2 separate regions of the Homo sapiens genome follow, and region 2 is linked to region 1. Evidence: fine-mapped expression QTL. A gene starts in region 1. The other region holds a variant in brackets. All regions are shown on one strand. Distances are between the middles of the regions. Region 1 holds the start of HYLS1 (HYLS1 centriolar and ciliogenesis associated). Region 2 has its middle 17 kb from the start of PATE3.

The links.
Region 2: its variant is fine-mapped to the expression of HYLS1 in whole blood (TOPMed, PIP above 0.99).

The regions. Positions count from the first base shown.
Region 1 is chr11:125,881,406-125,893,403 of GRCh38, reverse strand. It overlaps HYLS1 (HYLS1 centriolar and ciliogenesis associated), which reads right to left and starts at 5,736. Exons shown (of 3, transcript NM_001134793.2): 1 at 5,639-5,736; 2 at 1,932-1,981. LINC03136 (long intergenic non-protein coding RNA 3136) reads left to right here and starts at 10,549. Exons shown (of 2, transcript XR_007062935.1): 1 at 10,549-11,998. RefSeq lists silencers at 5,159-5,548, 5,649-5,698, 5,789-5,838 and an enhancer at 5,979-6,028.
Region 2 is chr11:125,799,257-125,811,254 of GRCh38, reverse strand. No RefSeq gene overlaps it. Among named protein-coding and RNA genes, the nearest start is that of PATE3, 17 kb to the right of the region's middle. RefSeq lists an enhancer at 7,972-8,473. The variant G/A (reference allele first, on the strand shown) is at 4,989.

The sequences.
Region 1 (11,998 bases):
TGTCTTATTTTCTAAGACAGAATTTAAGAATATTAAATTCATTTAATTAAAGATTGGATAAATTGGTTTAATGCCAGGCACAAAGTTACCTACCTGGAATAAAGCACAGTACCTTATCTTACAAAGCATATAAATCTAGTGCAGAGGTTGGTAAATGTTTTCTGTGAAGGATTAATGAGTAAATGTTTTAGGCTGTGTCAACAACAAATGGCCTCTATTGCATACATGTTTTTACAATCCTTTACAAATCTAAAAAGCACTCTTAGTTCATGGGCCATGGTGTTTGCCAAGCCTTGGGCTAGTGACTATAGGCAAGTTCTTATAGAGGAGATATTGAAGCTAGATCTTGCAGAACAAGTGGGAGCCAGTTAAAATGAGGATAAAGAACCACTTTAAATGTGTCTAAGTCAGAAGATCCAGTTTGTATAAAGGGTTAGAGATGACAACATATGCATTCAGGCAGCTCAATTCTTTAATACGGCTTGAGAGTGACAAGAACATAGTTTAAAAAGGTAAGCACAGGTCACATTTGTAGAGCAAAGACATTCCTTAAAAAGCTTAGATTTTGCAGGGCCACTGAAAAAATTTACATGCCCGATAGAATTGTGTGGCAAAAATATTGCTCTGAGTATTCTGTGGATGGGAAGAGGGCAAGATTGGAGGCACTGTGACCAATTAGGGGGCTGCTGGAGTAATGGAGGCAATAGATGATGAAAATGGCCTAGAAGAGATTTTTAGTGAGGCAAATGGACAGAAGTAGATGAATTTAAGATTAAGAAAGTAGAAACAACAGGACTCAGTGAATAAATATGCTGTTCAAAACTAGGGAGGCTTTCTAGATAACTCCTAAGTTTCAGATGTGAGCAAAATGAGTGGCTGGTAGTACCACATACTGAGAGAGGAAAAATGAGATAGAGCTTTGCTTGTTCTCAAAGTTAATAAGTGATCCTCAAAATATTACTTGTGAACACCAGTATTTATTCAAAAGAACTCAGAGTTGTCTTAAATACATTATCCTTTGCAACCATAAAAATAATAAACATCAAAGTTTGAACTCAGACCTTCTTCCTCAATAATAATTTTCATTACTAAAGTGAGTGTTCACCACATTTGGAATTTTTACAAATGCCACCTCAGAGAATGAGTAATTTTGCAAACTTACATTTGAAGGCTTCTTGTTTATTTTACCTATGATGACTGTCTTGACTTATGTAGTCACTAAATTCTTACTCTTCTAGATTGGATAGTATAATCTAGTCAACCTTGAAAGATTTTACTTAAGATCTAAGACCCTGATCCTCTAATTTACAATTCTACCATGTTTATGAGATCCAAAGTTTTACTTACCAACCAATAATTAGTTTTTTCCTACCCATGTTCAAGACTTCAGGTATACAAATATGTTTTCTATCCTCAAGCTGCTAGTGCAAATAACACATGGGACAATTAAAAACAATACTAATATATAAATCATAAACTAATGCTGCATAATTGCTACAGAAGGGGGGTGGACCACAGAAATAGACTTCACTGAAACAGTTCCAGATTTAGGAAGTAAAATAGCATACAAAAGGTGAGGTGACCCTGTAGTACTAAAAAGTACATTATAATAGCTGTTATATCCTAGCAGACAGGGAACCAGAAAATACCCCATTTTAGAGATGGGGAATTAGTGGTACAAATTACTTAAGATTTATTCAAAATTGCCCATTGTATGATCCAAGTCTTCTGGATTTGAATCATTATCACTGCTTTTTGGGACCCAGTCTATCAACACTTCATTATGTCCTGAGTATTCTTAAAATATAATTACTTTGGCCTTTACTTTTGATTTAAAGATCCTCTTTTTCATGTAATCAATGATCATGGTGGAATAACTTAAATATGTAAGTGCAAACCAAGGTTTTTTTTTTTTTTTTTCAATTTCTTACCTTATTTCAATGTATCTTGATTGGTATTTACATTCAAGTAAAAAAAAAACCTAGAAAAGAAGAATAGAGTTTAAAAAAATTAACTCTGAAGCAGTGATACATGGAACAAAATGCACTAACCATAAGTCATTGTTAGGATACTGTGTAGAAGCAAAGGAATCAGAAGATCAGGGTCTTAGATCTTAAGTAAAATCCCTTCAAGTCTGGCTAGATTATATTATCCAATCTAGAAGAGTAAGAATTTAGTGACTACATTTTTGGTAGTTGCCATAGAAAAAGTCAAGACAGTCATCACAGGTGGAACAAATGGGAAGCCCCCAAATGCAACTTTGCAAAAGTACTTGCTCTCTTAGACAGCATTTGTACAAATCCGAAGTCTCTGGCCCATGGTAAGGACTAAATAAATGTTGGAATAAAGGAACTATTTAGGTTGTGAAATTTAAATGACACTTTTTATATATTTATACATAAATAACGATTTGTGAGACTCTGGGCTAGGAGGATTTTTGGCAGTAAAGCCAAGAGTTAGTTTTTTTTTTTAATGGCATGTGTCCTACTATACAGTGATTAATGTGTTATTTCCTCTGCATTTCAACTGTGTCACACTCCTATTTTTTTCCTTGAACATATGAAGATGATGTTTGCAAACAATAAATAAAATAGAAACTTTAATAAGGTCCATAGGTAACTGTCAGTTCCTTCTCTTTCTAATATAAAAGATCGAACAATCCTTTCTCTTTAGAGGGAAACTTTCACATAAAAGCTAGAGCAACTTGTATTCTGTAAACACAGACAACATTGACCGAAATACCTAACCATATCTTCTCTTCAAAAGTCTTAGTGACTCAGCATCCTAGGGTTAGCTAGTTACAATCAAAAGGATTTCAAGGGTAGAAGGGGCAAAGACTTCAAAATGAGATAAAGGGACTGGGTCAGTAGACTGCTATAGGGAGGCTATTGCAGAGTTATAACAAATTTCTCCACCTCTGGGGAGGTAAGCAAGCAGCTTAAAGAATCACAGTATTAAAACAAAACAAAACATCCTACCACAAAGGCAAACAATACCATAATGAAGGCAAAAGAGACAACAAACTGGGAGAAATACTTGTAACACGTTTAAAAATCAGTAATTTGAATTCCTCTTAGAAAGCTATTAAAGGGTACACATTATCAGTAAGATAGGGGAGAAAAGACAGATGCCGTACCAAACGAATAATAACTAACAAACAGCTGGGCGCAGTGGCTCATGCCTGTAATTCCAGCACTTTGGAGGCTGAGGTGGGAGGATCGCTTGAGGCTGTGAAGGAGTTCAAGACCAGCCTGTGCAACACAGCAAGACCCCCATCTCTCAAAAAAAAAGAAAAAAGATTAGCTAGGCGTGGTGGCATAAACCTGTAGTCTCAGTACTATGGGGGCTGAAGCAAGAGGACCGCTTGAACCCTGGAGTTTGAGGCTGCACTGAGCTATGATCTGGCCACTGCACTCCAGCCTGGGCACAAAGCCAACGTCTGTTTCTAAACAGCAACAAAAATTAATAAACAGAAAACATGTTCAATTTCAGTAATGTGTATAAAAGCATTAAGACATCATTTCAGATTGATAAGATTTTTTCAGTACCCGGTGCTGGCAAGTGTGTGAAGAAATAAAAACAAGCATCCTTATTATGCCCTGTGTGTTGGGGATAATCCGTTTTTCCAGAGGGCAGTTTGGCATTATTATTATTGTTGTTGTTTTTTGAGACGAGTCTCTCTCTGTCGCCCAGGCTGGAGTTGCGGTGGCCTGATCTCGGCTCACCGCAACCTCTGCCTCTCAGGTTCAAGCGATTCTCCTGCCTCAGCCTCCCGAGTAGCTGGGATCACAGGCACCTGCCACCACGCCCGGCTAATTTTTCTTCTATTTTTAGTAGAGACTTGGTTTCACCATGTTGGCCAGGCTGGTTTCAAACTCCCAATCTCAAGTGATCCGCCCGCCTCCGCCTCCCAAAGTGCTTGGGATTACAGGTGTGAGCCACCGCGCCCGGCCCAGTTTGGCATTTTGAATCAGAATTTAAACTGTACCACAACTTCTAAGTCATAATCCACTTCCAGGAATTTATTCCAAGGACATAAATTGGACAAGAATGCAAACATGTATACATACAAGTGACCACTACCATACCATTTTATGATTATGAAGAGACTGGAAACAAATGTACATTAGTAGGGGACTGGTTAAATAATATATGATACAATACAGCCATAGCAACAAACGCCACGCATCCATTAAAAATGGTAATGCGTATCGACACTGACAGAGAAATGTGTTCCCAATTTATTACTGACTCAATAATGTATAATCTGCTTAACTGACGTTCTTTTAAATTAACATACTTTATTATATTTGTAACATGCAATTATTTAAAACACATTTTATAAGGAAATCACATAAATATAAGGTATATATTATGAATATATCTGAAGTAAACCTAAATGTGAACAGTGTTTGATGGTTATCTGTGACTGATGAAATTTCGAGTATTTTCTTTCTTCTTTACACGTACTAAATGTTGCTCGGATTGCTAAAAACATGTACATACTATGTTTGCATTCTTGTCCGATTTATGTCCTTGGAATAAACTCCTGGAATTGGATTATGACTTAGAAGTTATGGTACTACTTGAATTCTGATTTATGTTTTTCTTTTCTCTTTTTTTTTTTTTTTTTTGAGACAAGAGTCTTGCTCGGTCGCCCAGGCTGGAGTGCAGTGGCGCGATCTCGGCTCACTGCAACCTCTCCCTCCCGGGTTCAAGAGATTCTCCTGTCTCGGCCTCCCGAGGAGCTGGGACTACAGGCGCCCGCCACCAAGCCCGGCCAATTTTTGTATTTTTAGTAGAGACGGGGTTTCACCGTATTGGTCGGGCTGGTCTCGAACTCCTGACCTCACGTGATCCGCCCACCTCGGCCTCCCAAAGTGCTGGGGTAACAGGCGTGAGCCACCGCGCCCGGCCTGAATTCTGATTTATAATGCCAAACTGCCCTCTAGAAAAACAGATTATCCCCAGCACACAGGCCATAAAGGTGCTTGCTTTCATTTCTTCACTCTCTCAGCAGCATGGGGTACTGAAAAATCTTACCAATCTAAAAAGATATCTTAATGTTTTTCTTTGCCTGCTTAGTGAGATTGTATACTGTTTAGAATAAAAAAGATTTATTTCCATTTCGGGGTGGACAAACACCTTGGACGGTTCCATGCTGCAGTCCACAAAAGGTGCAGCTAGAAGGCGACAAGACACGCTCCGCCTTTCAACGGCAAAGCTCGCAGTCGCCCCGCCTGGCCGTGGGCGTGGCTTGGACCCAGGTCGCTAGCGGCCTTCGGGACTCCCCTCCAGCCCTGGGGCCGTCCCCGGCCTCCGCCTGGTCCCAGGGGCGCGGCCCAGGAGCTCAGAAAGGCCACCGGGGCAAAGACCGCGGCGGCGGCCAGCGCACACCGTGACCTCCAGGGGCTGCGGCCCGCCGCGCACATCGCCTGTAGCTCACGCTGCCCCGGCCGCCTCCCTCAGGAACGCAGACGTTGGGGACGGCTCGCCAGGCAGGACCTGGAATCCACGGAGGGAAGCTGCCACTCTGCACCGTCCCGACGGTGGGAAAAGGAGCGAGGGCTCCCGCCGCAGTGGGCCGGCAGCCACCAGGTCCCCGCGTCCCTCCGCTTCCGGCCTTCGCCCGGCTTACCCGCGTCGCGGAAGTCCGCTCTCTGCACCGCGTCCTGCCAGTCGCCAGCAGAGCACCGCAGATTCTGTTAGCTTTCGCGTAACTTGCGCAGGCGCACTGCCGGCCCACGCGCCGAGCCTGCGGTTAACCGCCGACCGCTGAGGTTTAAATCCGGAGAGCGAACCGGCACCCTTGGCCCGGTCCGCCCTCCCTCTTATTGGTCCTGAGGGTAAACGTCCTCCAAGTCTGTATCCTGATTGGCGCACATTTTGTCTGGGCCTTCTCCGCCGGCGGGAGCATGCCCGGGATTTCCAATGTGGCCTTAAAAATATCCGAGCCCGCCTAGCTGAGGCGCGCAGGCAGCAGCCGTTGCTGCGACGCCTCTGGTGTACTAAATCTGGAGGGGAGGTTGGGCCCTCGAAGAGAAGGAGAAGACCCTCAAACCTTGGCTAACGGCGACATAGCTGGCTTTTTGGAGAGGCCGCCTAACGGTCTGCCACTTCATTGGAATCAGCCTCCGCCCTTCTCAACTGGCTGCTGCGGGGCCAGTGGTGCCGGGAGACGAGGGCGGGCGCTCAGGGACGGTTCGAACAGTCTGGGGTGAGTCCGCCTGTGCGCTCTAGACGTTTCCTTGGGGCCTGAGAGAGCGGCTGTATGAAACCCTGGCGCACTGAGCTCTTCCTTTCCTCTGCATGGTGTGCAGGGCCCTGGCGTGACCCGTGGCTGCGTCTCCACAGCTCCTCCCACGTTACTCTAACTGTGCTCCAGCCACCGACTGCCTTGCTCCGACATGCACTTGTTTTCTTTTGGAATGTGCCTGTCTCCTTCACATGGTGTTACTCTCAACTTTTTTTTTTTTTTTTTTTTGAGACGGAGTTTCCCTCTTGTTGCCCAGTTGCCCAGGCTGGAGAGTAGTGGCGCGATCTCAGCTCTCTGTAACCTCTGCCTCCCAGGTTCAAGCGATTCTCCTGCCTCAGCCTCCCGAGCAGCTGGGATTACGGGCGAGCACCACCATGCCCGGCTAATTTTGTATTTTTAGTAGAGATGGGGTTTCACCATGTTAGTCAGGTGATTCTACCCCCTCGGCCTCCCAAAGCTCTGGGATTACAGTTGTGAGCCTCTGTGCCCAGCCACTAATTTTTTTTTTAAACCCGATGTTTTAACTCTTTTTGCATCTGTACCTGTAAAAAAAAAAAAAAAAAAAAAAAAAAAAATCTAGTGCTTGGGGATTGCTGAGGATGAGATCTGTAAAAGCAAGAGGAGAGGCCCTCAGGGTTCAATATCCTAGTCAATACCAAGCAAACCTATCTCAACTGGTCTTGAGTCCTGAGCATTGCATTTTCCACCTTAAACAAATAGGTGCTAGTTGTCAAGTTCATCTTACACCATTTCTTAAATCCAGGATTCAGTGGGAGGGGAGAAATGTTTAATCCTTTTCCTCCAAACACTTCGTATTATCTCTTACTCTCCCTCTTTGCCTCAGGGCCTTTGTGCTACCTCTAAGGCACTTTGAATTTGTGGGAGGAAGAAAATGGAAAGAACAAAGGAGGGAAGATGACAGAAGTAGGTTGTGGAGATTTGAGTGACTGCCCCTACATCTGCAATATCATAACACTCCTTTAGTGCAGCGGTCCCAACCTTTTTGGCACTAGAGACAGGTTTCATGGAAGACAATTTTTCCATGGCTCAGAGAGGGGGTATGGTTTTGGGATGATTCAAGCGCATTACATTTATTGTGCACTTTATTTCTATTATTATATTGTAACATATAATGAAATAATTATGCAACTCACTGTAATGTAGAATCAGTGGGAGCCCTGAGCTTGTTTTTCTGCAACTAGATGGTCCCATCTGGGGGTGATGGGAGACAGTGACAGATCATCAGGCATTAGATTCTCATAAGGAGCATGCAACCTAGATCCCTGGCTTGCGCAGTTCACAATAGGGTTCACGCTCTTGTGAGACTCTAACACCCCTGTTCATGCGACGGAAGGCAGAGCTCAGGCAGTAATGCCAGATGGGGAGTGGCTGTAGAAACAGATGAAGCTCCTACGGCTTACCCCCTGCCTTGCGGCCTGGTTCCTAGGTGCCTGTCCGTGGCCTGGGGGTTGGGGACCTTTGTTTTAGTGCATATATTCTTTTCTTTCCATAGGAGCAAATTTAATATGCTCAGGTTTTATCTTATGCCAGCATGACTTTTTCTTTGGCTTTGAATCTCCAATCTGTCTTAGAAACCAAAGAGTAGATGGAATCATTTTTCTTCCAGCTTTGAACATCAGCATTCTCCTTATGGATCCCCCAGTTCGTTTCTTTTTCTTTTTTTTTTAATTTTTTTTGAGACAGAGTCTCTCTCTGTAGCCCAGGCTGGGGTGCAGTGGCACGATCTTGGCTCACTGCAACCTCCACCTCCCAGGTTCAAATGATTTTCATGCCTCAGTCTCCTGAGTAGCTGGGACTACAGGCGTGTGCCACCACACCCAGCTAATTTTTGTATTTTTAGTAGAGACAGGGTTTCATCATATTGGCCAGGCTAGTCTTGAACTCTGACCTCAAGCGATCCGCCAGCCTCCACCTCCCAAAGTGCTGGGATTTCCAGCGTGAGCCACTGTGTGCAGCCCCAATTAGTTTCTGTTATCCTTTTTATTAAATTTTGATCTTTGAAAACGTTTAATACATAGCAGCTTGAAGGATCTACTCCTGAATATTTCATATTGCAAGTGGTATCTTGTGTTCTACCCAACCCTGGTTTTTTTGTGGATTGCTTAGTCCTCCAATTTTTCTTAGATCTGATTTAATAATGCTTGTGGTTCCCAGAAATCTACTGAACCCCGGTCAAACCTTAAACAAGAAACTTTAACCATGACCACTTAAAATACAGTATATAGAGAAAAATCCTACTCTGCAAACCAAATCTCATCTTAAAAATTTGTTATGGAAAATTTCAAACAAATGTTAAAAAACCATACATAATGAAGCCCAGTGAACTCAATACCAGATTCAGCAATGATTAACTTATGACCAGTCTTGTTGCTTCTATATCACCACATACCTTGTCTTGTATTATTTTGAAGCAAATACTGAGTATCTGAAATCTAAATATTTCAGTATGATCTCTGAAAAATTAAAGGACCTTTTAAAAGCATAACATAATACTATTTTTGTTTGTTTGTTTGTTTTTGAGACGGAGTCTCACTCTTTCACCCAGGCCGGACTGCAGTGGCGCTATCTCAGCTCACTGCAAGCTCCACCTCCCGGGTTCATGCTATTCTCCTGCCTCAGCCTCCGGAGTAGCTGGGACTACAGGCACCCGCCACCGCACCCGGCTAATTTTTTGTATTTTTAGTAGAGACAGGGTTTCACCATGTTAGCCAGGATGGTCTCGATCTCCTGACCTTGTGACCCGCCCACCTCGGCCTCCCAAAGTGCTGGGACTACAGGCACCCGCCACCGCGCCCGGCCAACATAATACTATTATCACACCTAAAGTAGTTAATATATTTTCTTACTATCATCAGATATCCAGAGTTCAATTTTCTACTTGTCTTTCTTTTTTTAAAGTTTGCTTAACTGGGTCAGGATCCAGTCAAATCCACATGATATGTCAAATCCATATGTTCTTTAAGTTTCTTTTATTCTTTAAATTTCTCCCTCATTTTTTTCCTTGCAATTTATTTGTTGAAGGAACCAGGTTATTGGCCCTGTACAATCTCCCACAATCTGGATTTTGCTGATTACATCTAAGCAGTGTAGTTGAATATGGCTTCCTTACCTTTTGATTGCAACACAGCTCTCTTCCTTATGCTTTCCCCAATTAGGTGTTGTTGGTTTATCAACTCATCAACTTCTTTATGAACTCAAATATTGCTTTCAACTGGTTGTATCATCATGCTTGTTAACCACTCTTTTTTTTTTGAGACAGAGTCTCGCTCTTGTCGCCCAGGCTGGAGTGCAGTGGCACGATCTCGACTCACTGCAGCCTCCGCCTCCCGGGTTCAAGTGACTCTCCTGCCTCAGCCTCCTGAGTAGCTGGTATTACAGGCGCGTGCCACCATGCCCAGCTAATTTTGGTATTTTTAATAGAGACAGGGTTTCGCCATGTTGGCCAGGCTGATCTTGAACTCCTAACCTCAGGTGATCTGCCCGCCTTGGCCTCCCTCCCAAAATGTGAGGATTACAGGCGTGAGCCACCACGCCCGGCCAAGTTAACCACTCCTTTATGATATCTTTGCTTACCTCACCTCTTTGTTGACATTTTCAGACAAACTTTTCAACTATAGTCCTCCCTTGTCTGACTAATTACATCCTGTCGCTAATATTTTCAATTCTTCTCTGTTTAAGTCTTCTCAGTATTGGAGGCAGAACAATAATGGCATAAAGAATAACAAAATGAAAATAACCAGCTTTCCCTTGAGACTGCTGCTCCCTTCTGTCAGCCTTTTTGTCCATTCTCTCTTCCCTATTTTGTTTGCTCAGTTGCTCCTTAAGTCCCTGCATTCTGGATTCTACCCTCATCAGTATATTCAAACTGTACTTTCAAAGGTCACCAGTGATCTTGGTAGTCAGCTCCAATCGTCTTGCTCAGCCCTCATTCTTTTTTACTTCTTAAAAGTATTTGATAAAAAGGCGGGGCGCATTGGCTCACGCCTGTAATCCCAGCACTTTGGAAGGCTGAGGTGGGCGGATCATGAGGTCAGGAGATCGAGACCATCCTGGCTAACACGGTGAAACCCCGTCTCTACTAAAACTACAAAAAATTAGCCAGGCATGGTGGCCAGCACCTGTAGTCCCACCTACTCGGGAGGCTGAGGCAGTAGAATGGCGTGAACCTGGGAGGTGGAGCTTGCAGTGAGCCGAGGAGATGGCGCCACTGCGGTCCAGCCTGGGCGACAGAGCAAGACTCTGTCTCCAAAAAAAAATAAATAAATAAAATAATAAATAAAAAATTTAAAAAAGTATTTGATAATCAATTCTGCAAATATTTAATGAACACCTGTTGTAAGTGCTGTGCTATGTCTTCGTGATTTGATAGTGAATAAAAAGACACAATTTCTGCCCTTATGGAGCTTTTGGTCTGATAGGAGAAATTGACATTGATGAAACAATCACAAATTACAGTTGTCCCTCAGTATAATCTGGGTATTGGTTTCAGGGCCCCTGCATATACCAAAAATCCATGCATACTTAAGTCCTAAAGTTAGACCTACAGAACCCACTTATATGAAAAGGTTGGCCCTCTGTATACCCAGGTTTCATATCTCTCAAATACTGCATTTTCCATTGCCTTTTGTTGAAAAAAATTCACGTATAAGTGAACCTGTGAAGTTCAAACTTGTGTTGTTCAAGAGGCAACTGTATTATAAAATTACAGTTGTGTTCAATGCTAAGGAAAGGCAAATGGTTCAATGAGAACATTTAATAATAGGGAGATTTGGCATAGTGTCACTGAACCAAGAATTGAAGGATAAGTAGGTGAAAGGACGTGGAGGGAAGTGAAGAGGGTGAAAGGAGTTTGCTAGGTAGTGGGAAAAGCATACTCAAAGGTCTATAAGAATGGAAGAGTCAAGAAACAGAAAGACCAGCAAAGAAAATAATGGTAGAGATGAGACTGAGAGATAGGCAGGGGTCAAATCATGCAGGTCCTGTAGGCCAAGGCAAGAGATTTGATAAGAGCTATAGAAACTGAAGTGTTTTAAGCAGGGTTGGGGCATGGCTAATTAGTCAGATAAGGGCTACATATTCAGTTTTGCATTTGAAATTATCTGTTGGCAGCACTGAGGAGAATGGATTTGAAGAGGAGAAGATTGTATGTGAAGTCCAAGTGGGAGATAGTTGGATTATTCCAGGTGGAAGACTGTGGTGGTTTAGGCTAGGAGGATAATAGCCAGAGATTTCAAGAAGGGGATAGAGATAGTTAGTTGCTAGAACTCATGATGACTTGAAATGGATTGACTGGGGTTGGGATGTGAAAGAGAGGCAGGTCATGGATTATTCATAGGATTCCTGTTTGTGCAGCTGGATTCTGTTTTCTGAGATAGGGAATACAGGAAGAAAACTGTTTTGAGAGGCAGAGTTAGATTTTGGGCATGTAGAATTTGAGATACCCTGGGGACTTCCAGGTGGAGATAAAAGTAGGTAGAATATAAGCTCATATTATGGTATCATATTATCTAGGCACAAATTCTGCCTCCTCTACTCCCTGGTTTGTGATAAGGACAAGTTACTTAGCCTACTTTTAAGAAGTAAAAAAGAATGAGGACTGAGCATGGAGCTTAGATGAAACATATGGCCTGGAGATATGGATGTATGACTCATTTGCATATAGGTGGATGTAGTTTAAGTAAAGGGTAAGAATAAAGTCTTCCAGGGAGAAAGTGCAGAATG
Region 2 (11,998 bases), 82 kb after region 1:
AATAGCCAAGCACTGGAAGCAACCTAAATGTCCATCCACAGATGAATGAATAAAGAAAATATGATACTTATACACAATGGAGTAATATTTATCCATAAAAAAAATGAGATCCTGTCATTTGCAACAACATGGATAGAACTGGAGATCATTATGTTAAGCGAAACAAGCCAGGCACAGAAAGACAAACATTACATGTTCTCACTTATTTGTGGGATCTAAAAATCAAAACAATTGAACTCATGGAGATAGAGAGTAGAAGGATGGTTACCAGAGGCTTGGAAAGATAGGTTGTTGGGGAGGAGGTTGGAATGGTTAATGGGTATAAAAACTAGTTAGAAAGAATGAATAAGACGTAGTGTTTGATAGCACAACAGAGTGACTATAGTCAATAATTATTTAAATTTATATTTAAAAATAACTAAAAGTATAATTGGATTGCTTGTAACACAAAAGATTAATGCTTGAGGGGATACATACTCCGTTTTCATGATGTGGTTATTACTCATTGCATGTCTGTATCAAAACATCTCATGTATCCATAAATATATACATCTGCTATGTATCCACAAATAAATAAAAAATTTCCCAGCAATGTTGTGTCTGGAAATAACACTAAACATTCTCCTCGGAAAAAAACTTAATTCTGACACTGCAAGTAACCAAGCCATCTTTGTTTAGATGTAGTTTAGTGCCATGCCTTTTTATATTCTTTTATTAGATTTTGAAGCATGAAAAGAAAAACCTATCCTTATTTTCAAAACATGAAATATACAAAGGAGCAAAAAGAACCCAAAACATAAAACATCTATGAATCCATCATAAGAGGAGACTCCTGGTCAAATTTCCCTTTATAGATATTAAGTCTTCTTAATATTACTATCATAATTTTTCTATTTATTGATAAAAATAGAAATAACTAATTGTAATTTTAACTATTTATCTCAAGCATATAACTTCAAGATCTATGTGTATTTTTCTCAGAAATATAAGGTTCAGGTTATTACAGCAAACAGAATACTTGATACCTGTAAACTTCATGTGAAACGTTTACTGTTTAATATTCCTTTTATTAAAAAATCAAATGATGTAAGGGAGTTATAATTACAGCTTTAAGAGATGTGATAAAAGAAATTATAACACTACCACTTTTGAAGCAGATATCCAGTTATAGGTAAAATCCTGTGTGCCTTGCCCCTACAAATGAAGAAGATTCACATTTTCTAGGACATACGAAAATGAAAACAACTGCACAACTGAGAGATGAAACTTACATGGTGATTGCTTTGTGTAGAAAGTTTTAAAAATTAGTAAAATATTTATGAATAATCTCTAAATTTCATTTCATTAAGAATGCATGGTTCAGTGTTTATTTCTATAAAAATTTAAAGAAAAATATGAGAAAAATCTGCATGAATTTTAATACATAAAAATAATGTTCTGTGGGGTTTGAAATGTATATAAAATTAAAATACATGACAATAATATAATATTACTTGGAAAAATAAATGGAGTTAAGATATTTTGGGGTCCTCTTATTATCCAAGATACAGTAAAAGTACTAACTTATATGAGAGTTACCATTGGAAAAGTAACAAGAGTAACCATTGGAAAAATAGTAAAATATTTGATAATTCCAAAGCAAAGAGAAGGGGGATACTGGGATAACAAAAAAAAAGATACTTAATCCAAAAAAAGACAAGAAGGAAGAGAACAGTAAACACCAAATAAGTATGATAAATAGATAATAAGTACTAATATGTTATATTTAAACTTGAATATATCAGTAATAAGCTAAATATTCCAATTTAAATATGAGACAGACTAAAACTTTAAAAACAGCATATACTGTTTACATAAGACACAGTATAAGGATACCAAAGTTGAATGTAAGTGGACTGCAAAAATACAGTATATAAACACTATCATAAAACCTTGTAGTTACATTCATAGCAAAACTGTAGACATTAAAGGCTGAAAGCATTACCAGAGATGAATATATGGGTAATTCATGATGATAAAAAGATCAATTTATCAAAAATATATAACAGTTCTAAACTTCCATGCACCTAATAACATAGCCTCAAAATATAAAAAGCAAAAATTGGCAGAACTAAAAGGAGAAATAGACAATTTATCTTTTGAAGATTTTTACATGCTCTCTCAGTAATAGATAAAATAAGCAATAAAAAAGTAAGGATACAGATGCTTTGAAGACCATATCTTAGAAAGTTGACCAAACTGACTTATTTAAAATATGAATCTAGCAACTGTAGAACATATTTTTTTCTAAGTGCACATTGAATACTCACAAAAACAGACCACATTTTGGGACATAAAGAAAATCTCAATAAATTTCAAAGACCTCAAATCACATAGACATGTGTTCTCAGACCAGAGTGCAATTAAATTATTAATAACAAAGGTAACTCCAGAACCATGAGCTGAATACATTTCTGTTCACTATAAATTACCCAGTTCTGTTGCAGCGATAGAAAATGAATTAAGACAGCATGTGAGGGATGCCCAGTCCTCAAAAATATTCAAATATCACCTCGTATTCTACGTACTCATTGATAAAAGCTGATTGTTTTTAATCGATTGGCACAGCCCTGTAACAAAAAATGTTAAGGAGAGATAAGAGTTTGAGATCATCACTGTAGTTTTCTTAACAAAAATAATGTTATGAAATAACAATAATTAATCCCAGAATTATTATTGGTTGACTTTTGCTTTACGTTCTAAAAATGATTTTAGCCATCCTATGTATTAGACTCTACAGACACTATGATATGTATTTTTTTAGCTTATAATTATATACACACATATGTAATATTATCCCAGGATTGGTCTCATCCCTATTGATATCCAGGATTATGACTGCTCATTAGTTTGTGTAATGTTGTATTTATATAAGTAGAATTAAATATTTAAATCTACAAATAAATTTAAAAATATTTTCAATATATGTATGATGAGATTTCTCCCAAATTTTATAATATTTGGATGAATACTGTACTTTAACATCTTGAGAAATAGAAAGTAGATTCTTTCATGCAGGGTTGATTAATTAGTTTAAATGGACAGAATGAAGATGCTGGCAGTAGGTTCTAAAAATGCAATGATTCATGGTATTTACTGGCTCTGAGCCCAGCCCAGCACCAGAGTTCCCTAGGAAGTGCAGTCCTTGTGTCCCTAGACTGCCTTTCAGTTTTGCCTAGGACCCCAAAGCACTTTGGCTTGCAGTGACAAGGCTTGCGGAGAAACTCAAGTTCTAGCTTCTGGGATGGTTGATTACCCTCTGGCTATGGCTGGTCCAAATTGTTCCCTCTGTACACAAGTGCTGGCTAAGCCCAGCATGGCTTTACTCTCCTCTGTGACAGGACAGCACTGAGTTCAATGCGAAGTCACCCAGTTGCTGCGATCTCACTCCCCCAAGTGCACAGGGTCTCTGTGCTACATGGCTACTGCCAGAGGATGGGAGAATGGTAGTTTCAGCAATTCAAGGCTGTCTCTTCTACCCTCTTTAATGCCTCTTTCAGTGATATAAAGTTAAAACCAGGTACTGTGATTGTTCGAACAACCTGATTTTTGTTCTTGTGATGATGCTTTTCTGTGTGCACGTAGTTGTTAAAATTTGGTGATCCTACTAGAGGGACAAATGCTGTAGGCTTCTTTTCTACCATCTTGCTCTGCCCTTCTCTGTGTATAATTTAAATGATCCATAATTAATTGAAAATTTTATTTTTACTTTTCTTAATTTTTTTTTCTCTTGGCCGGGCCTGGTGGCTCATGCCTGTAATCCCAGCACTTTGGGAGGCCAAGACGGGTGAATTGCTTGAGCTCAGGAGTTAAAGACCAACCTGAACAATATGATGAAGCCCCATCCCTACAAAAAATACAAAAATTAACTGGGCATGATGGCATGCACTGTAGTCCCAGCTACTTGAGAGGCTGAGGTGGAAGGATAGCTTGAGCCCAGGAGATTGAGTCTGCAGTGAGTTGTGATTGTACTACTGTACTCCAGCCTGGGTGACAGTGAGACACCATCGCAAAAATCTGTGTGTGTGTGTGTGTGTGTGTGGATTTATGGATACAAGTGCAGTTGTGTCACATGAAATATATTAGTCTGGGCTTTTAGTGTACTATTTGCTTATATATTGTGTTTTTAATGCCAGGTTACCCTGCCTCCTGGCCCTCAGTCAGGGGAAACAACTCCCAATTGCTGTGAACAGCAACTGAAAAGAGGCTGTGAGTCATGAAGGCTGAAGTTGACTGCCTTAGAATTCTTGGGTTGATTTTAAAAGGCTTTGCTTAGAGCTATCAACATAGTACTCTGAACTTTCAATTAGGACATATTGGAGGCAGCAGTATAGTTTATGAAGCTCTGTAAACCCTTTTACAAAAACATGTAACACTAGGATAGCAAAGGGAACATGCCATAGACAAAATCAGGGAACCAGGGTTCCCCAAGCCCTTGGATATCTCAGATATATGGAAATATGTCACTAAAATTCCTTTCACAAAATAGAGCTTGATCCTTAGGAAGAAAGGAACTGTTAGTAGAAACAAAATTGAGCTTGGTATAAAGACTGAGATTATCAGAGAATATAATGTTTCTTTTTTTGTTTTTTTTTTTTTGTTTTTTTTTTTGAGATGCCCAGGCTGGAGTGCAGTGGCGCGATCTTGGCTCACTGCAAGCTCCACCTCCCAGGTTCATGCCATTCTCCTGCCTCAGCCTCCCGAGTAGCTGGGACTACAGGCGCCCACCACCATGCCTGGCTAATTTTTTGTATTTTTGGTAGAGATGTGGTTTCACTGTGTTAGCCAGGATGGTCTCGGTCTCCTGACCTTGTGATCCACCCACCTCAGCCTCCCAAAGTGCTGGGATTACAGGCATGAGCCACCGCACCTGGCCGAGAATATAATGTTTCTGTATGTACATGTATTATCTAGCTTTGAACATGGAGTGGACATAGAGCAGTAACACC[G/A]CAATAGCAATGGGCACACCTAGCACCTGTATTTTCGTTTCTAAATATCCTTTCCCATTAAGAAGAAGTAGGTAGGGCTCCTTGCAGGGAAAATACAAAATGAGCCTGGAATATTTAGGCCAGGGCTGAAATAAGGAAGTGTTCAAAGAATGGTGGAAATGCTGAAAGGATATTGAATCAAGCTTAAAGGGACTCTCACTGGCCAAAATTGAGCATCAAAATAAATGTTATAATGATCAATATGACTCATTGAACAAAATAGGAATGATTATACTTATGTAATCAAATAGGTAAATAAGGAGAGGAGAAAACTTTTCCTTACAGTAGATTGCCAACTAATAAATTAGATTCCATCTAATAAACACTGAAGGAGTATTGAAATTGGAAAATCACCATCTGACAAAAATGCTAAGAAATAATTCATTAATTCAGGCAAAAATGCTAAGATTATCACTAACTTATTAGTGTTAACAGATGATAAAACTTGTAAGTGATAAAACTTGTTGGTGAAAATGGAAAGATACTGGGACATTCACAAAGTCTGAGAACCTCACCAGAAAATAGTTAGCAATTACAAAGGGAAAATGAGTAATTTTACAGAAGATAAATAATTTTAATTGTAATTAATTAACATCACTAGTAAAGAGATAAAATTATGTGCCCCTAGATAGAATGCACTGAGAACACAGCACCACTTCGGCGAAATTTTTGTCAAAGACCTATTATCTGTATGTAATCATGCAGACATGTTGTGCAGGCCCAGTTTGAGGGGAATTATGTAAAATACCAGCTTATAATTTTAAAAGTATTAAAGCCATGAAAATAAGACTGTGAACCTATTCCAGATTAGAGGAGACTAAAGAGACATTGCAAATAAATGCAATATCATGATCCTAGATTGAATTATTTTGCTATGAAAAATATTACTGGGAAATTGATAAAACTTGGATGGGGTCTGTGGATTACATGATAGTAATTTGTCAATACTAATTTTGTGATTGTGATGATTGTATTGTGGTTATAAGAAAAAATATCTCTGTTTTTAGGGAACACATAGGAAAGAGTTCAGAAATAATGAGGCATTGTATTATTAACTTGTATCATTAGCAAGTAGTTCAGAAAAAAGACATTCTTTGTAGTATTAGAAACAGTAACTCTTCAATCAAACTATAATCAATCTAAAGTATATGATTTAGCTTAGAGTTTGGCTGTGTTAAATACAATTTGAGAAAAATATATAGAAAAGCTTAGAATGGAGATGGCTAGAAAACCAAAAAAAAAAACACTGTAAGAGATATGTTTGAAAATACTTGTAGAAAACGTTTCAGAAATGAATACTGTGACTTCTGGCTCTTGGTTATAATGTGGAGAGTTGTTGGAAACAATGCGTGCCTTTGAAATAACCAGAAAGGTGGATAAAATAATAGTCAAATATTTATTATTATTATGTTTTTGAGACAGACTCTCGCTCTGTCACCCAGGCTGGAGTGCAGTGGCAAAATCTCGGCTCACTGCAACCTTTGCCTCCTGTGTTCAAATGATTCTTCTGCCTCAGCCTCCTGAGTAACTGAGATTACAGACACACGCCACCACGCCCAGCTAATTTTTTGTATAAATAGTCAAATATTTTAAAATGATATGAGAGGTGTGTGGATTCAGAATAAAAAGAAACTCAAATTCCAGAAAGGAAGACCCCCTTCTAAGGTGAGCAGAGATGAACAGGAACTTTAAAGATATCTGCCAAGACTTTTCACAGTTAATAGAAGAACAGATTTGCCATAGACAGAGAGACTTTTTGAACTTAAACCAACCAAAGCTTCAAAATAGTCCTGACCCTGCTCAAATCTGATGTGATCTTGGTGACGAATTCCTCCATGTATCTGCTTCACAAAGAAAGGAGTGTGCTCTCTCTAGGGGAAGATAATGCTTTCTACAATGTTGGGAATATAATAAGAATTTATGTGACATATGAAGAAGCAGGAAAAAATAGGTAATAGAAGCAGACCAGATGTTGAAATTATAACATGATGACTTTAAAATAACTATTAAGATATATTAAATGAGAGAAAAAAATGGGCAAAATGAAAATATAAATAATTTTAACAGAGAAATAGAATGTATTAAAAAGAACCTAATGGAAAAGTGACTAGCAAGATGACCATATAGGACACTCAAATGATCACCACTTGCAAAAGCATCAATTTAAACAACTATCCATCCATGAAAACACCTTGACAAGAGCTAAGGAATTCAGGTGAGAGATTATAGAACCTTAGTGGAGTACACAAATAAGAAAAGATGGATTGAAGAGAGTAGGAAGAATAGTCTCGCATTACCCATATCACCCCTCCCCCAAGCCCAGGCAGTACAACATGGAGAAAGATACCCTCTGCATGGGGTAAAGAGAGTGAAATAAACACCCAGTGTCACCGCAGACCTTGTATGAGCCACTCCCCCTACCCCCGTCAACCCCAGTATCAGGCTCTCCTCCATGGCTTCAGGCTCTGGGCCAGCCCCCATGGACCTATGCTCCAGGTTTGCACCCACAGAGCCAACCATCAGTCTGTCCCCCAACATCCAGACTATAGACTTTCCCTTGTGGCCTCAGGACTCAGGCTACTCCCTGCAGACCCAGACTCCAGGCTACCACCTGCAACCCCATGCTCCAGGTTTGCCCCAATGCCATATTAGCCCCTGTGGACTCAGGCTCTATGCAAGCTCCCACAGGCTCAGGCTCCAGGTCCACTCCAATGCCAGGCTGACTCCTATAGCCCTAGCTTTCAGTGGCACCAAGTTCCAGGCCTGCTTCAGTGGATCCAGGGTATAAGGCCACTTGAGACCTCAGCACTGGACTGGTCCACATGAACCTAGTCTCCAGGATCACCCTTCCAGACCAGATTTCAACATGATACCTTCAGATCAGAACCTAGATCCACCACTATGGGCTTAGGCTTATTGCCCACTCCAGTGCTAGAATGGCCTCCATGAACCTAGGCTCCAGTCCCATGCTTGTAGACCCAGGCACCGGGCATGCCCCAGTGGACCCTGGCATAAGGCCAGCAGACTCAGGACAAGGCCAATTCCTGTGGACCCAGGCACCTGGCTCACCTCATTGTTAGGCCAGCCCTCTTGGACTCAGGCACTAAGATCTTCCACTTGATAACCCAGGCACCAACCCGGCACCAAGATCTTCCACTTGCTAACCTAGGCACCAGCCAGCTCTCCTGAGGACTCATGTAATAAGCCTGCTCATAGACCCTGCCAGGCAGCATACCGAGAATCCTTATATGTGTTAACTGGTAAAGGGCTTTACTGGCCAAAGCCAGTCTGTAAAGACTGGAAGAAGTGCATAGTTCTTCAAATGTACAAACACCAACATAAGGCCACAAGAATCATGAAAGATAATAATAACACCAGCAAAGGGAAAAAAAGAAGTGTCAGTATATGACCCTAAAGTAATGGAGATCTATGAACTGTCTGAAAAATAATTTAAAATCATTATCTTTAAAAAACTGAGTTACAAGAGAACACAGAACTAAACAAAATCAGGAAAACCCAATACATGAACAAGATGAGAATTTCAACTGAGATAAAAACCTTTAAAAAGAACCAAACACAAATTCTAGAACTGAAGAATACAATGACTGAAATAAAAAGTTGAATTGAGAGCTTCAATAGCAGACTCAATCAAGCTGAATAAATAATTGGTAATCTTGAAGACAGGTCATTTGAAATTACCTAATCAGAAAAACAAAAAGAAAAAGGAATTAAAAAGAATGCAGAAAGCCTACAGAACATATAGGACACTGGCAAGGAAATTAATTCACATGTTATGGGAGTCCTAGAAAGCAGAGCACGAGAAAAAGATGGAAAGCCTTTTTTTTTTTTTTAAAGAAATAATGATAGAAAGCTTCACAAATCTGGAGAAGTAAACATCAGATCCACAAATCCCAAAGAACAAAGGTTTAAATACAAAAAACCTTCTATGACCACATTGTAATCAAATTCTCAAGTAAAAGACAGAAAATTTTGAAAGCATTTGGAGAAAATAAACTCATCATATAGAAGGGATCCTTTGTAAGACTATTAGTGATAGTCTCAGTGGAAAACTTGCAGGCCAGGAGAGAGTGGGATGATATATTTAAAATGCTGAAAGAAAAAAATACTTGTCAACCAAAGATACTATACTCAGCAAAACTGTCCTTCAGAAATGAAGGGGAGATAAAGACTTTCCCAGAAACAGAAGCTGTGGGAGTTTATCACCAGTAGACCTGCCCTAGAAAAAGTGCTAAAGAGAATGCCTTAAATTGAAAGAGAAGGATTCTAACATCATAAAAACATATGAGAGTATAAATCTCACTATAAAAGTAAGAATATAGTCAAATTCAGAATACTTTAATACTGTATTGGTAGTGCATAAATCAGTTTTAACTCTAGTAAAAAGTTAAAAGACAATGACATTAAAAACAACTGTAAGTACAATAATTTGTTAATTAGTAAACAATATATAAAAGATGTAAATTGTGCATCAATAAAATATAATGTGAGGGAAGAAGAAGGTAAAGTGTAGAGTTTTTGTATGCAGCTAGTTCAGATTTCATCTGATTAAAATAGGCGGTTCTAATGATAATATGTTTTATGTAAGCCTTGTGGTAACCAGGAAGAAAAAGTCTGTAGTAGATACACACACACACACACACAGAGACAAAGATAAAGGGATCAAGGCATATCACTACAAAAAATCATCACATCATGAAGAAAGATAGGAAGATAGTACAATATGATATTTGGATATATATATAAATTGTGAAATGGTTAAATCAAATTAACATATCTGCCTCATATACTTGTTATGTTTTGTCATTAGAACATTTAAGGTCTACTTTTAGCAGTTCGTAAGTATAAACTACATTGTCATTAGCAATAGTTACTATGCTGTACAATAGATCTCTGGAATTTATTCGTCTTGTCTGACTGAAATGTTGTAACTCTTTGATGTTTCCTGAAGCCAAGATTCCCCACACAGATTGTGATTGCACAGTCCAAAGACAGAGTGCAGTCTCTGTGCAAAAAAAGGACTGCAGAATTTGTGCATGGGATTTCTCTCAGATCTCCCAGTATTTGTCTGCACTGTTTCATTTGCTGCAGTCTTTTATCTTTAAATAAAGACCTTATTAAGTATGCTGTATGAATTTATATGTTCCAAAGAGAATAAGTGTGTTCTATGAAGTCTGGTGGCTCTTTCAAATATCTGAACTTGAGAAACCTTTGCAATGCCTCAAACAAATACTTGATAACTTCCAAAAATAGAATTAACATAAGCAATATTCACTTACTACAGTGCAATAAACTAGATGCTGAAAACCAATCCAAAAAAGCACTGCAAGCTGGAAATGTAGCAACATACTATTTAGCAACTCTTACATCAACAGAAAAATTTAAGACAAAAATGCAGAATTTTTTAATAGCAAGTATAGGGAAACATAAAATATCAGAAATTATAAAATATAGCTAAGGCATTTTTCAGAGAAAAATTCATAGTATTAAATATACGTAAAAAGAAAAAAGAAATAACAAATACACCCAACTTAAAATAGTAGACAAAAAAAACACAAAATAAAAATCAGAAAGAAGAAAAGGTGTAGCAAAATAGAAACTAAAATATATAAAAAGCAAGAAAGAAACTAAATCATATCACCAGAGAAAGTCACCTTCACTAGAGGAAGACAGAAAGGAAATAAAGAATAAAGAGAAGACCAAAAAAAAGCCAGAAAAAAAATAACAAAATGGCAGGAATAAGTCCTTACTTATCAGTAATAACATTGAATGTAAATGGACTAAACTCTCTGATCAAAAGACATAGACTGGCTGAGTGGATGAAAATACAAGACTCATTGATCTGTTGCCTGCAAGAAACATACTTCACCTACAGAGACACACATAGACTGAAAATGAAGAGATGAAAAAAGATATTCCATGCCAATGAAAACCAAAAAAAAGCAGGAGTTGCTGTACTTATATAAGACAAGATAGATTTCAAGACAAAAACTAGAAGAGGCAAAGAAGAAGTGATATTATTATATCACTACATAATGATAAAGAGATCAAGTCTGCAAGAGGCTATAATAATTTTAAATATGTATACACCGAACACTGGAGCACTCAGATATATAAAGGAAATATTATTAGAGTTAAAAAGAGAGATAGACTTCAATACAATAGTAACTGCAGACTTTAACACCCCACTTTCAGCACTGGACAGATCTCCCAGATAGAAAATCAACAAAGAAACATAAGACTTAATATGCACTACAGACCAACGAATCTAGTAAATATTAACAGAACACTTCATCCAAGAGTTGCAGAATACACATTGATCTTCTCAGCACATGGATCATTCTCATCATATGTTAGGTTCCAAAACAAGCCATAAAACATTTTTAAAAAATGAAATAATGGCAAGCATCTTCTCTGACCATAATGGAATAAAACTAGAAATCAGTAAGAAGAGGAACATTGGAAACTATACAAATACATGGAAATTAAACAATATGCTCCTGAATTGCACCTAAATGACCAGTGGGTCAATGAAGAAATTAAGAAGAAAATTGAAAAATTTCTTGAGACAAATAGAATGGAAATACAATATACCAAAACCTATGGGATATAGCAAAAGCAGTACTAAGACAGAAGTTTATAGCTTTAAGTGTCTACCTTTAAAAAACCTTCAAATGAACAAACTAACAATGCATCTTAAAAGAATTAGAAAGACAAGAGCAAACCAAACCCAAAATTAGCAGAAGAGAAATAATAAAGACCAGAGTAGAAATAAATGAAATTGAAATTAAAAAATACAAAGGATTCATGAAACAAAAAGTTGGTTTTTTTGAAAAGTTAAACAAAATTGACAAGCCTTTAGTCAGACTAAGAAAAAAGAGAGAAGATTCAAATAAATAAAATTGGAAATGAAAAAGAAGACATTAGAACTGACACTGCAGAGAATGAAAGGA